3 separate regions of the Homo sapiens genome follow, and all the other regions are reported to be linked to region 3. Evidence: microRNA targets listed by miRTarBase, many of them from high-throughput screens and not tested one by one. Region 3 holds a microRNA gene; each other region holds the end of a gene's coding sequence.

Region 1 (4,069 bases), not on the chromosome of region 3:
ATCTGAAAACATGTAAATGCTGCTAACATATAAGATAAAAATATTTGAATACATTTCTTAAAATGTCTGATTCCTCTACTGCACTGCAGATGAGGGACAGTTCTAGATGTTAACATACATGCTGCATAAAGATATTTTCTCTGATTACTGTATCTTATGTAATTCATTTCCAAGTGATAACTAAATTTAGTCAATCCCAAGTCTCAGATGTTACCTAATCCAGCTCACAAATATTCCACATACTTATTTACTTGGATTGGAGGAAGACAGTTTTATAATAATGCCAGCAGTCTTTAAATTTGTAGTGAAGTTGTGCAATAAAAACAATTGAAATAAGGCCAATCTTTAGTTTATAATACATGCAGAAAATAGTCCAATGCCACTATAGCAGGTCACAAAGGATAAAATTTTAAAAAGCTATGTATCTATTGCCCAGGGCTGTGAGTCTCTGATTAGACTAAATATTTAAACTAATGCTCCACTGAAACTTTTCATCTGGGACTTGAGAATGTTGGAGTTGAGGGAGAGAATACTAGGGTTGGGTACTTAGAAATACCTAAATTGGTTTACACTTTCCATGCATGTAAGAGTTATATTTCTGAACTTTCAGTAAATTGGAGATGTTTTTATTGCTTACCTAAGACAACTGCCAATATTTCTTTCTGGCCTATTAACAGTACATACATAGTGTTACTGCCTCAAAGAGGATTATTTTCCCAAGTGGTAAAGAAAACAAAAATATGGTGATGACTTAAATTTCTTAATTCAACTTCTGTAATGCATAGAAGCTAAATTATAAAAATATAAAATCTAAATATATTGGTATTACTAATACATGTTTAAGTGTTTCGGTTACAAAGAATCTGATCCAAGTTACTGTGCTTTACTAAGAAACCAGTGTCTAATAATGTCCAAATAAGGTCATAAATATACAGTGTCTGTAGAACAGGAATAATACATTTACATGTTATAGGAAAGATGGTAAATACTCATTTCTTTGCTTGAGTTGGAATTAACACATACACTGTACTAGAGGTATATTCCACTCTAAGACTGTGTACGCTCTTCCTTTTTCTGTACACAACTTAAAACTGTACATTTTTTTTACAAAAATTGATTTTATAGCCTATTATTTTTTTCTTAACACAATGCAGATAACATCAGGAAATTACATATTTCAAATAGATTGCCTTCAAAAGCAACTAATTAATGACAAATTTCAAACATACACTATTATTTTCAAGAATGGTGTAACTGAAAGACTCATTTTTCTATACAATCAAGCCATCCATTTCTGCATTATGAAGAGTTTAACTACTGAATTTTAATTTTATAGTTAAATATATTTGTTAGAAAAAAATAAATATACAAAAAACCTGAAAAATTTGAAATTATTTTTCAACTGCAAAATCTCAGCAATGCAGTCAAGATCTGGAAAATGGTTTACTTAATTTCACAGGAGAATTTCTGTACAAATTTAGTTACAAATGATCTAAAAAGCCCAAATGTATCACTTTTTCATTCTTCACGACAGTTAAATGACAGCTAATATTTATCCTTATCAGAAATAATTATGTAATGTATTTTGCCAAGGTTCAATTGCAGACTTTATTTTTCTACATCAGGGTCATGCTGATACATATTTTCCCCATCCTCACTTTTTAAAAATGTAGTATCTGAAAATTTTGATTACATTTTTGTACCATACCAGTCCTCAGAAAATACTACATTCTTTAAATTTTTAAAAAAATGGACAGTAATTTTTAAACAATAGAAATGGTAAGTATGTTGGTTTTTAAGGTATAAAATAACTAACTGTACCATAAACAAATAAATAACTGCTTTCCTTTTCCATAGCAGTACATATAGCAATACATTCTCCTAAGTCATATAGTTATCATTTACAATAGACAACTTAATTTTACTAATGATGCAAAAAATAATAGAATACAAGGCACAATCATTAAATGGAGTTTTTCTTTAGGGTGTATATTGACATACCAGCATGATAAGGATACCGTAAAAAGTGCAGAAAAAACACAATGTGCAATGAGACCACTGTATAAAACATGATTGCATAAAAAGTGATTTGGCCTATTTTAACCTTTAATAATTGAAAATAACCAATTTCCCCCTTAAAATTAAACTATAAAGTATGACATTTTAAAATTATTTTTATTCTACTGCTATCTAAAAAATCCTGAAAAAAGAATTTATACCTGGGTAATAGTATATAAGTATGTGTTTGTATATATATTTAATTATACCCATTTATCAATATATACACATACACACACAGACACGTTTCTTTGTAAGTCATTTTAGGCTATTAGATATGTCTAAAGTTTAGAAATGACATTAATCCAGATCAACAAGTAAACATCAAATCCCATACCTTTTTTCCTGTATTTTCCTTGAATCCTTTAACCACTTAAACATTTCCTCTAGAACATCTCTGTCAAAGGACCCACCAGTGCATTATTTTCTATTAGTACCAAAAAAAGATATATCTCAGCATAACTCTTTAATAACTTGCTCTTTAGAATATATAGCCTTTCCAATATTGAAAAGTGTATGCTGTCCTGACGTCAAAAACAGGCTTTCCACTGCACTGATTCTCAGTCTTTGGCACAATAAACAGAGATTGAGTGATATAAGAATCAAGGTCTGAAAAATTAGACAGTCAAATGTTTTCCAATGTGGATATGTTTCCCTTCATCAGTACATTTTCTCTTGTTTGGCAGAAATGGAATAAAGCAAAAGCCTCCTCTAGATACTTTGTAGATGAACATTCTATAATTAAAATTAAACTGTTTAGGGTATCAAATGGTGGAAATTTTATATTTATCTTTTAGAGGAAACATTTCTTAATTCACTGCTACTCTGTATAACATCTATCTTTTAGGGGCATGACTTGTATCAATAGAAATGTACCTCACTTGGTCAAAAATAATTCATTTTAACATGAAATGCTCTATCACTAGGAATATTATGCTCCTAAAGAGTGTAGCAGAATTGTCTTTTCTATAAATAAATCAGGAATTCATTATAGATCAATTTCTTTCGTTTCAAACAGTGAATGAAATGAATGTGAAAATGCATAACCTATCTAAGGGCAATAAATAGCAAACATTTAAAATATATATGTATATATTTATATATATATATATATATTCATTTAAAGAAGTGAAGTGTCTCGTAAGTTTGTTTTTTTTTTTTTTTTTTTTTTTGCAAATCAAATCATAACATTCCCTACTCCACCACAGCAGCAAGGAAGCAGAAGCCTTAGTTCTACTTATTCCTTAACTGTACCTGCTTTATAGATTTTGAAGTAAAATATTTTGGTACAAGTTACCAACCAATTAAATTAGCTTTTGCTTTTTCAGTCAACTTTCGGACTCGTCCTCTACTAGAAGTTCCAAAAGTTAAAGAGGTGTCTTCGAACAACAGCTGCCTTTGCTCCTCTTCAGAGTCATCCTCATTATAGAAAGCTGTCCTTCGACCTTGATTTCTAGTTCTCATGTGGGGTTCAGAGCCTTTGAGTTCTTCAAACTCTTCTTCCTCATCTATAGGATCATCTATCTTTTTTCGGTTACTTCTCCTTAACACTTTGACACTTGCAGGGACTAGGAGATCTGCATCTAATTTTTGTGTCTTCATCTTCCTTTTGGGCTTCCTACCTCCACGATTCTTTTTCTGTAACAAATCTTCCTTTACATTATTAGTTTCAGAAAGAAAATTGCATGTTGAAGAAGGAAGTACTTCATCTCTGATGGGATGCACATTATTTTGCTCTAAATCTTCTGGCTTTGCATACTGTAGCTTTTTGGGCTTTCTACCCCTTTTCTTGTGTATAATTTCACCACTATTGGTATTAACTTCTACTTTAGGTTTCCTTCCAGGTCCCCTCTTCACAAGTTTTGATGGCTGTCCTCCATGGCCATTTACTTGAATGGTTCCTGGTACAAGAGCGTTGTTCTTACAATCTCCTAAAAGGGAACAACAGTACACTTAATATATGGAGTTTCTTTTTTTGTTTGACTCTCAAACTTGTCAGTAAGGCCCCATT
Region 2 (4,069 bases), not on the chromosome of region 3:
CTACTATAATAACATCTATTAAAATTCATTTTTAATTCTCTTATGGTGATCAGTGTTTATTCCTTTATTTTCATGTTTCGTTTTGTTCTTTGTGTTTAACTCTCTCCATCTAGGAATTTATCTTATTTCGCTACACAAAGTAGCCCATCTGCTGTCATTTTGAACCTGTGGGAAGCTCGTCATCAGCATGATGGTGATCTTGACTCCCTGGCCTGTGCCCTTGAAGAGATTGGGAGGACACACACGAAACTCTCAAACATTTCAGAATCCCAGCTTGATGAAGCCGACTTCAACTACAGCAGGCAAAATGGACTCTAGTCCACTTCCTCCCATGAGACAGAGTGATGGCCAGCTTGGGGACATTTGCTTTAAATGGGAAAGAGGCCGCTTTCTGCCCAGTGGCGTTGGGGGAATTCAGCCTTCATTTATAATCAGTGAGATTCCCCTGTTGAAGAAACTAAATTTTATATAGGTAAAACATGTTAATAGGGAAGAGTACAAGCTCTCTTACATATAAGAGGGCTCTACTATCTCCTTGGAATCCACATTTGGGTTAACTCCTCAGATTTGGAGTGGCAAGGATAAAAGTGAGGGCAGAAGTAGCTGTGGGAAAAGATGAGCTATGATAATGCTGGGAAGGCAGAGATTGATTAAGTGCATGCTTTGAAATAGGTTTTTAATGATGTGCCCCAAAGGGCCAGCTGATTCTGGTACTAGATTGTCAGAGTTTTCTACCAACTGGCATCTGTGATGTCAGAGATCATTGTAAAAATGGCTTTTAGACGTGAAACAGGGTTGCCAACCCATTTGTATGACTTCAACAACGTCAAGGAGGGCATTTAGAATTTAGAATCTGAGCACATCACACCAGCACCAGCTCCCTGTCTCTTCTAGCCACTTAATGGAGACACAATGGAGAGGTAAGACAGACCACAAACTAGTTCTTATAGTGTACTCCACCTTTTACTTTTTTCCTGAGACAAATCTACCCTTATTCTTTCTTCCTCTTCCTTACCCCTTGCAGTAGGGAGGTATCAAGGAGCATAATTAAACTTGTCAATACGGAAAGTTGTTTTTTCTAACACAACAAAGTGGGACCATCTCTATTCCCATCTAAGCCACTCAAATTGCTGAGTGCTATTAGAACACAGCTTATTACATGGATATGGGGACAGGAGAGATTAAAGCAGGTTCAAAAACACATGAACTGCAGATGCCATAGGCCTCAAATCAGCTGTAATTCTAGGAGACACGTGTTGATCTAGTTATCTAACATTGTTGTTATAAGAAAATGAGTTTACTGCATTTTTCAATCCAGATTCTTGAAATTGTCTAACATGTGGGTACTGTGTCATCACAAAATCTCTCAGTAAGGCTATATGTGATCCTCATTTTGCCTCTTGGGAAATTAGCAGATAGTCTTTGCTCTAAATGATATCTGAGTAAATAGACTTGAGGAATCCTCTACCACAGTGTCCCTGAAACCACATGCATCATTCAGGAAGCCTTCACCCTGTGACTATTCAGCCTCCCTGAATATGCTTTCTCTATAGAACCACTAACATATGGCTATTGCTCTATGATTTTTTTTTTTACATTAGGAGGCAGTGATATTGTGGAAGATTGAAATCCACAGATAATTCATGACCCTCATCTTATCACTTTACTCCATCTTTTTATCCTATTAAATTATTTTTGACAAGATGTCCTGGTAGACTAAAGGTGAACAGATTTGCTCTTGCTCATCTTCTGGTGGATATTTTAACTTGCTATTCACAATCAGGACAACCAAAGTCAAGGACCCAGATGAACCACAAGGCAGCTAGTCAGCTACTTAGAGGTTGGTTACATTCGAATAAAAAGTAGTCAGGGAATGGGGGAGGTGGGGAGTTGGGGAGTACTTGGCAGTTGGGATATGATCCATTTTTTTAAACAAGTTTTTTGTAGATCCCTTGTAAAATAATAATAATAATGTTGTGAATCTCCATGCCAAGTGAAAAAGGCCTAAAGATGAGTTGAATTTGTGATACCATGGGTAAGGCATGGAAGAACTCTTGAATGTGTTGGCCATTTTCTCTAACTAACATGTGGTATGTATGGTCCCCTATATTAGATAGAAGTCTTTGCTACATGTAATTCAAAAGCATCTCGCTTTTCTCAGGAACCAAAGGCTTATGATGTAGGACAAAGAAATCATCTTAGAACTGTCAAGCATATTTTCACAATACCATGTCAAGATCAGGAAAACACCCTTTTGCTAGTGTGCTTAACTTATTTATTTCTTCTAGGAAACAATAGATAAACAGCATGAAAATGTAAATCATCTGGCATCACTGATAGAATTTCTGAAAGAGAAAGAGAAGTAGATGGTCAACCAGTCACTAGTTGGTTGGCATGAGGTGGTGTGCAGAGGAAAGCTGCATTCACTATTGAGTAAAAACTTGTAGAAAGCACATTATAGAGCTTATGTTGGAATCCATCTTGGAGGATTTTTGTTTTAAACTGTCTTTAGCATTTTCCCTCTTCCCTTCTAATGGGCATTATAATTGTTTCATCTACTCTGTGAATCTACATAGGTCTTTTTTTTTAGATGTTTGATACATTTTAAGTATTTTTAAATAGATGAAAATTCTAAATGATTTTCCCTCAAATCTATCTAGATTATTTTAAGATGAGACAAGATTATTGTCAATCCCTGAATGTCTGGAGTTACCTCCCATGGATTTTTTTTTCCTTTGGCCTGGGTTTTATAAACAACTTGAACATCATATCATATAGGATAACAAAGGAGGAAGTTAACTTAATTCACCTCAGACTTCAGCCTAAGATTCAATCAAATTCATCCTTCAGCCTGTCTTGTTTCTTCTTTATGTTTCTTTTACTTATTGCTGCTAGGATCCTACATAGGATTTCTATAGAAATGTATGAAATTCTGTGGTCACTGCATGTCAGGATTGCACAGTATGTTACAATACAATTTCAAAGAGAACCCACATTTGTGAGATTTACAGACCAAGGTGTGGTGGAGGAGGTAGAATTGCAGATCAGATAAAAAGTGAGCTTACACTTGAACTTAGTTATTCACTGTGACCTAAATTTAGTCCTATTGTAATATGTGCCTGTCACAACACAAATACCCCTCTTGAAAGAGATTTACTCATCTATCCAAGCACTTAATTTGGAAATTTTATTGTCCTATTGCAAAATGAAACAAAATTAAAAGTGGCCTCGAGTACTTGGTAAGTTACTTAAAATTTTTACAAAAATATCCCACTCAATGCCAAATCTTTCAGTCCTCAAAGGCATTTAAGTCCAATAGTCATGCTTTAAATATGGCTTTAAATTATGCCACCAAAATGGTGCACTTCACAGATTCACCAGACTGTAGCATCATAAAGTTAATTTACAGTTTTTACAACATTGCTTCTACATTCTTACTGGTTTACATTAAAATCCTTTAAGCCAAAAGGAAGCTTGCTCTATGGATTTAAATGCAAACTTCATTTACCAGTGCAGGAAGTCTCATAAAACTCAGATGTACTCCCACAAAAATTTTATTGGCCTTTTTGTAAGAGATGAAAAAGAATTGACACAGTTCTCTTTAAAGAGAAGAACTTTTTTATTATTATTTTTATCTCCAACTGCAGGTGGTGTCTTTTGCCAAGGTCTCTGTATTTTTCTTTCAGTTGTCTTTGGGAGGGGATGTTAAGTCAAATCACTAAAACAGGGTTCTCTTTGGATTAAAAGTTCTGGATTTATTGCAACTATTTTCCTTGAGAAACATTCTCAGCATCAGGATTGATAAACAAATGTAGATGATTAAAATAGGATAATTGGTTTTAGATAATATCTTCTACTGCCAAACTTCTGGCAAATTTACCTGTGAATTTCAAAATGTTATAAAATCTCTTGATATGCTTTTGTTTTTCCTTTTAGCCATTTTCTCTTCAATTTCTTAGTCCCTCTGCCCTCTGTAAATGTGTTGAGTGATATAGCTATCAGATGTATTGAAGGCAAAGTTCTCGCAGAGGTCTCTGTTCCAGCTCTGTAAAGGTCACAGGAATCGTGA
Region 3 (4,069 bases):
TGCGTGGGAGTCGCGATGCAGAGCCCAAAGCTGTTCCCTGAGAGTTACAGGAATTACAACCTGCTGAAGGGAATAATTGTTCTAAATATGTTCTTTTTTAGTATATGTGTGCTGAAGCGAGCACTAAATATCTTCTTTTAATGAGACTTTATTTTTATTATTATTTTATTAATGGAGTCCTAAGAGGAAACAGCAAGAACCACTGTCTTTAGAAAACCATTTGCTTTTCTCTTTGGAGGTGTTTGGTCAATTGGCTCTGAATTCTAAACCCTCCAGTCAGGTCAGGCCTGACTTTTAGTGCCCCTGTGTTTGGAGAAAATCCTGGGCTAAAATCCCCCAATAAGGCTGCTGCCTTGGGATCAGAGTCTCTGGGTGATCTCCCCTGGTACATAGCATCACCTAGGGATCTAATGCTTAGCAAGGACCTGAAGAAGCATTACTGGTTCATTATGGTTAGGACCTGTCAGAACAGAGCTGACGGCTGTCAAGGCCTCCAGGGCAAAGAAAAGAGCACATATCATACATGTTATTTTTCCATGTGCCCAGGCAGAAAGCTCACCTCCCCAGGAGGAAGCTGGGCTGGCAGAGGTCCTCATTGCTTGTGTGTGGCACCTCCTAACGTCAGATGATTGCTTTTGGTTCTGTTCTGCTAGAGATGTGGCAAGAGCTAAATTTTTAAACATTCCTAGTTTGCAAAGCTTGGGTACTGTGCCTGGTGGTTGCTGATAATGCAGGAGACATCCAGGCCAATTTTTACTAAGTGAATATGAACAAGAGAGGGCCCTGAACAGCAAGATCTCCACTGGGGGTCATCAGGAGGTAGGCTGCACACAGTGCCCAGCTGGCTTGTTAATCCAGCGCAATTTAACAACTGTCTGCCGAGTGCCTGTTGAAGGCCTGGGGCGGGAAGGTGAAAGGTAGGCCCACCTCAAGTTGCTCGTGGATAGCAAATTCTTCTTTGATAAAAGTGCTGAGAACTCAGCTTTATCATGTATAAAATGGAAGTATAGAAACCTAATGGTGTCCTTGGGAGAATTTAAAGGTACAATGCATGTAAAGTATGTTATACATGCCTAGCCCATAGTAGGTGCACATTATTTGTTGAAGGGATAAATGAATGAAAGTGAATCAAAGGAACAAATATGAGTCAAGCATGCATATTGTGCTGATAGGTAGTAAGTCTGAGCTAGTATTTTAACCCACTTCCAGGTGGGGGAAGGTGCAGGTTAATTTGGGATGGGCTGACCTATTACATAAGTCAGAGAGTGTGAAGGCTGAGAGCTGATGATCAGAAATGGGTCTCAGAGTGTTGGGTTGAGTTGGAGGCACACAGCCAAAGTGTTATCGGACCAAGGGGGCTTTGGGAGATTCTTGGGAGCCAGGGCCCAGCATTAGTGGTGATCAGAAAGGCAGGGCCAGATCAAGGGTGTGCAGACAGAATGGGCAAATGAACAGTAAATTTGGAGGCCTGGGGCCCTCCCTGCTGCTGGAGAAGTGTTTGCACGGGTGGGCCTTGTCTTTGAAAGGAGGTGGAGAAAGGAAGCTCCTTCTATGAGGCACTTAGATTCATTTCTATCTTCCTAGCCTGAGCACAGAGAAGTATTATATTAATACATACTGGTTTAAAGGTTGTTTCTCTTTCCACTGCTTCCACCAGTTTACAGCTTAGCCTAAGAGATAAGGGTGTAGACTGCGAGCCAGGTTCCTCTGTCTACCTCTGCTCTGCCTCTTACTAGGTGTGCAGTCTTACTAGGCAACCTCCTTCTGTCTCAGTTTTCTCATTTGTTAAATATGAATAATACCTCATAGGGCTGTTATAAGGATTGGATGAGTTACCATAAGTCAAATGCTGAGAATAGTCACTCATGCATTGTAATTTCTCCAGCAACTCTTAGGCATTATCATTACCTTCACCACTGAAATAAAGATCCATAGAACTCTGGCAGGTAACCAAGCAAGAGAGTCCTGATTGGGAGGAAGGACCTTTGGATCTCATCCTACAATGTTGTATCCTAATGCCTAGAGCCTGGCGCACAGTAGGTACTCAATAAAAATTTGTTATTGTTGAATTGTATAGAGTGGGGTTGCTGGTGCAGGGTAGGGAAGGAAGGACAGGACCCAGGGTCCTTTAGGCAATTGCCTGACTTCGGGAAAATGAGGCAGAAAATTGGTGAGGGTCTCCGGACTTGGGACCCAGGCACAGCTGGGATTCTGGGGCCACAGACTTGGGGACTGATCAGTGTGGGGAGCAGGAGAGGCAAGGGAGAGGGAAGAGTGAGAATGACTCTGACTGTGGCCAGCTCCATTCTTGGATAGGCAGAAATCTCGTGTTGAGTCTGTAATCAGCTCTTTAACTTGCATAGGATAGGAGTGTTGGGTCAATATTTCTGGTTATCAGGAGTCTTTTATGTAAAATGGAAATGATAATACCAAAAATATGTCCTGCTTTTCTAAGTCATATGTTTGTTAGTAAGTATCAAATAAGGCTATACCTGTGAAAGTGCTTAATCAACTGTAAATTACCATGGAAATATTATGACCAGTATAATTTTCTATCTCATTGAAACCTTGATTCCTTAGCATGTCTTCAACTTTTCTGTCTCTGGGATATTTGCATTTTCAGAGAGAGTCTAGAAAAAAAGCCTTAATTATGTCAACGGAATGAATGGTGAAGACTGAAATATCAGAAAGGTGCTTCTGTGCCAGAGAACTTTCTAATCCTGCACACGAGTACTATGATCGCTGGGAGAGAAGAGCCAGGGAAGAAGGTTTAATAAAAGGGTGGCTGCAAAATGCTTCTAATTTCCATTACTGCTAACCTCCACAATTCTGTCTGTCCTTCTTTTTTAATCTCACTAAGTTGTAAAGTGTCACAGAGGGTCAGGATGGGAACTCTGTCCGTGAGGCTAAGGTGAAGGCAGGAATTGGCCTTGGGGGACTTCTGTCCCCAGAGAGTACAATGCCTGTTGCTTTTAAATATCTCTTATAAATAAATTGAAAATATCATGTTGCAGTAATATTGAATCCACTTGTACACATGCAAAAATACCTCCAATGAACCCTCCAGGGAAATATTCCCCTTCAACTTCTTTCCTTGTGCATGTAAACCTCTTTTTTCAATATTGATCAATCTACGTACAGCAAATCATGTATAGCAGGAAGCAACCCCTTCTTTTTTGAAAGAGGGAGTGTCATTCTCTTTCCATTTGGAAGATGATTGGGAGAGATAAGTTTGATTCTTATTTCCCACAGTTTAGTGAGGAATGAGTGGAACAAACTAAGGAAGGTTTTAGTTAGGGAAGTAACACAGTTCTGTAGAGAAATCACCACCTAGTTGCATTTAAGGAGCTGTCAGCCTTGAAAGTTAAAAGAGTGGACTGGGCGCCGTGGCTCATGCCTGTAATCCCAGCATTTCGGAGGCCAAAGTGGGAAGATCGCTTGAGCCCAGGAGTTCAAGACCAGCCTGGGCAACATAGCAATACCCTATCATAAAAAAAAAAAAAAAGTTAAAAGAGTGAGTGAATTTCAAGTGCTTCCTGGCAGGTGAGGTATCCGCTGTTTATCCTCACACAGAAATGTTTTCTACCCTCCTTTTCATTGACTATCAGAGCTACCTGACCAGAAGAATTGCCCTTATGCATAATTTCCCTCTCAGCTCTCTTTCTCATGGATGTTGATTAGTTAATGCGTACATTTGCTTAAAGATATTAATTGAGCAGTATTTGATTTTATAGTATGGCTTTTAATAGTAGCAAAGTGTGTGGGTTCTGCTAAAAATTTACCCCCAAATGCAAAGTCTCTTTTCTCTTTGCACTCAATTTTAAGGAATTCCATTCAAACATTGGTAAGAGAATACATTACTGCGAAGATGCAACGATGAGGACGGGGCAGCAGAATGGGGACAATGTGGCTGGGGCATGGGGTCAAGTCCAAATGAAGAGGTCAAGCTATTGAGAAAACAATTGAGGGCAAGATTGAGAGAAGTGTGAAGGAAACAAAAGAAGGGGTGAGTTCCAGTGCATGTGTAGAAATGAGGATACAGACTCAGATGATGCTGCACTCACAAATT

The links. Region 3 holds the annotated microRNA hsa-miR-557 (GUUUGCACGGGUGGGCCUUGUCU, at 1,497-1,519, shown strand). A microRNA usually pairs through its seed, bases 2 to 8, with sites in the 3' UTR of a target mRNA and lowers its output. Matches are read on the target gene's strand: a 7mer-m8 pairs with bases 2 to 8, a 7mer-A1 pairs with bases 2 to 7 and ends in A, and an 8mer does both.
Region 1: the mRNA of PHIP is a reported target of hsa-miR-557. Seed matches in the 3' UTR shown: 7mer-A1 at 3,227-3,233.
Region 2: miRTarBase lists UNC5D as a target of hsa-miR-557. Seed matches in the 3' UTR shown: 7mer-A1 at 3,200-3,206.

What each region holds. Positions count from the first base shown.
Region 1 is chr6:78,937,342-78,941,410 of GRCh38, forward strand. PHIP (PHIP subunit of CUL4-Ring ligase complex) reads right to left here. Exons shown (of 40, transcript NM_017934.7): 40 at 1-3,989. The coding sequence ends at 3,352. It also overlaps a transcript of IRAK1BP1 not described here. Among named protein-coding and RNA genes, the nearest start is that of IRAK1BP1, 72 kb to the left of the region's middle.
Region 2 is chr8:35,790,246-35,794,314 of GRCh38, forward strand. UNC5D (unc-5 netrin receptor D) reads left to right here. Exons shown (of 17, transcript NM_080872.4): 17 at 114-4,069. The coding sequence ends at 318. Among named protein-coding and RNA genes, the nearest start is that of UNC5D, 560 kb to the left of the region's middle.
Region 3 is chr1:168,374,088-168,378,156 of GRCh38, forward strand. It overlaps MIR557 (microRNA 557), which reads left to right and starts at 1,437; the gene lies at 1,437-1,534.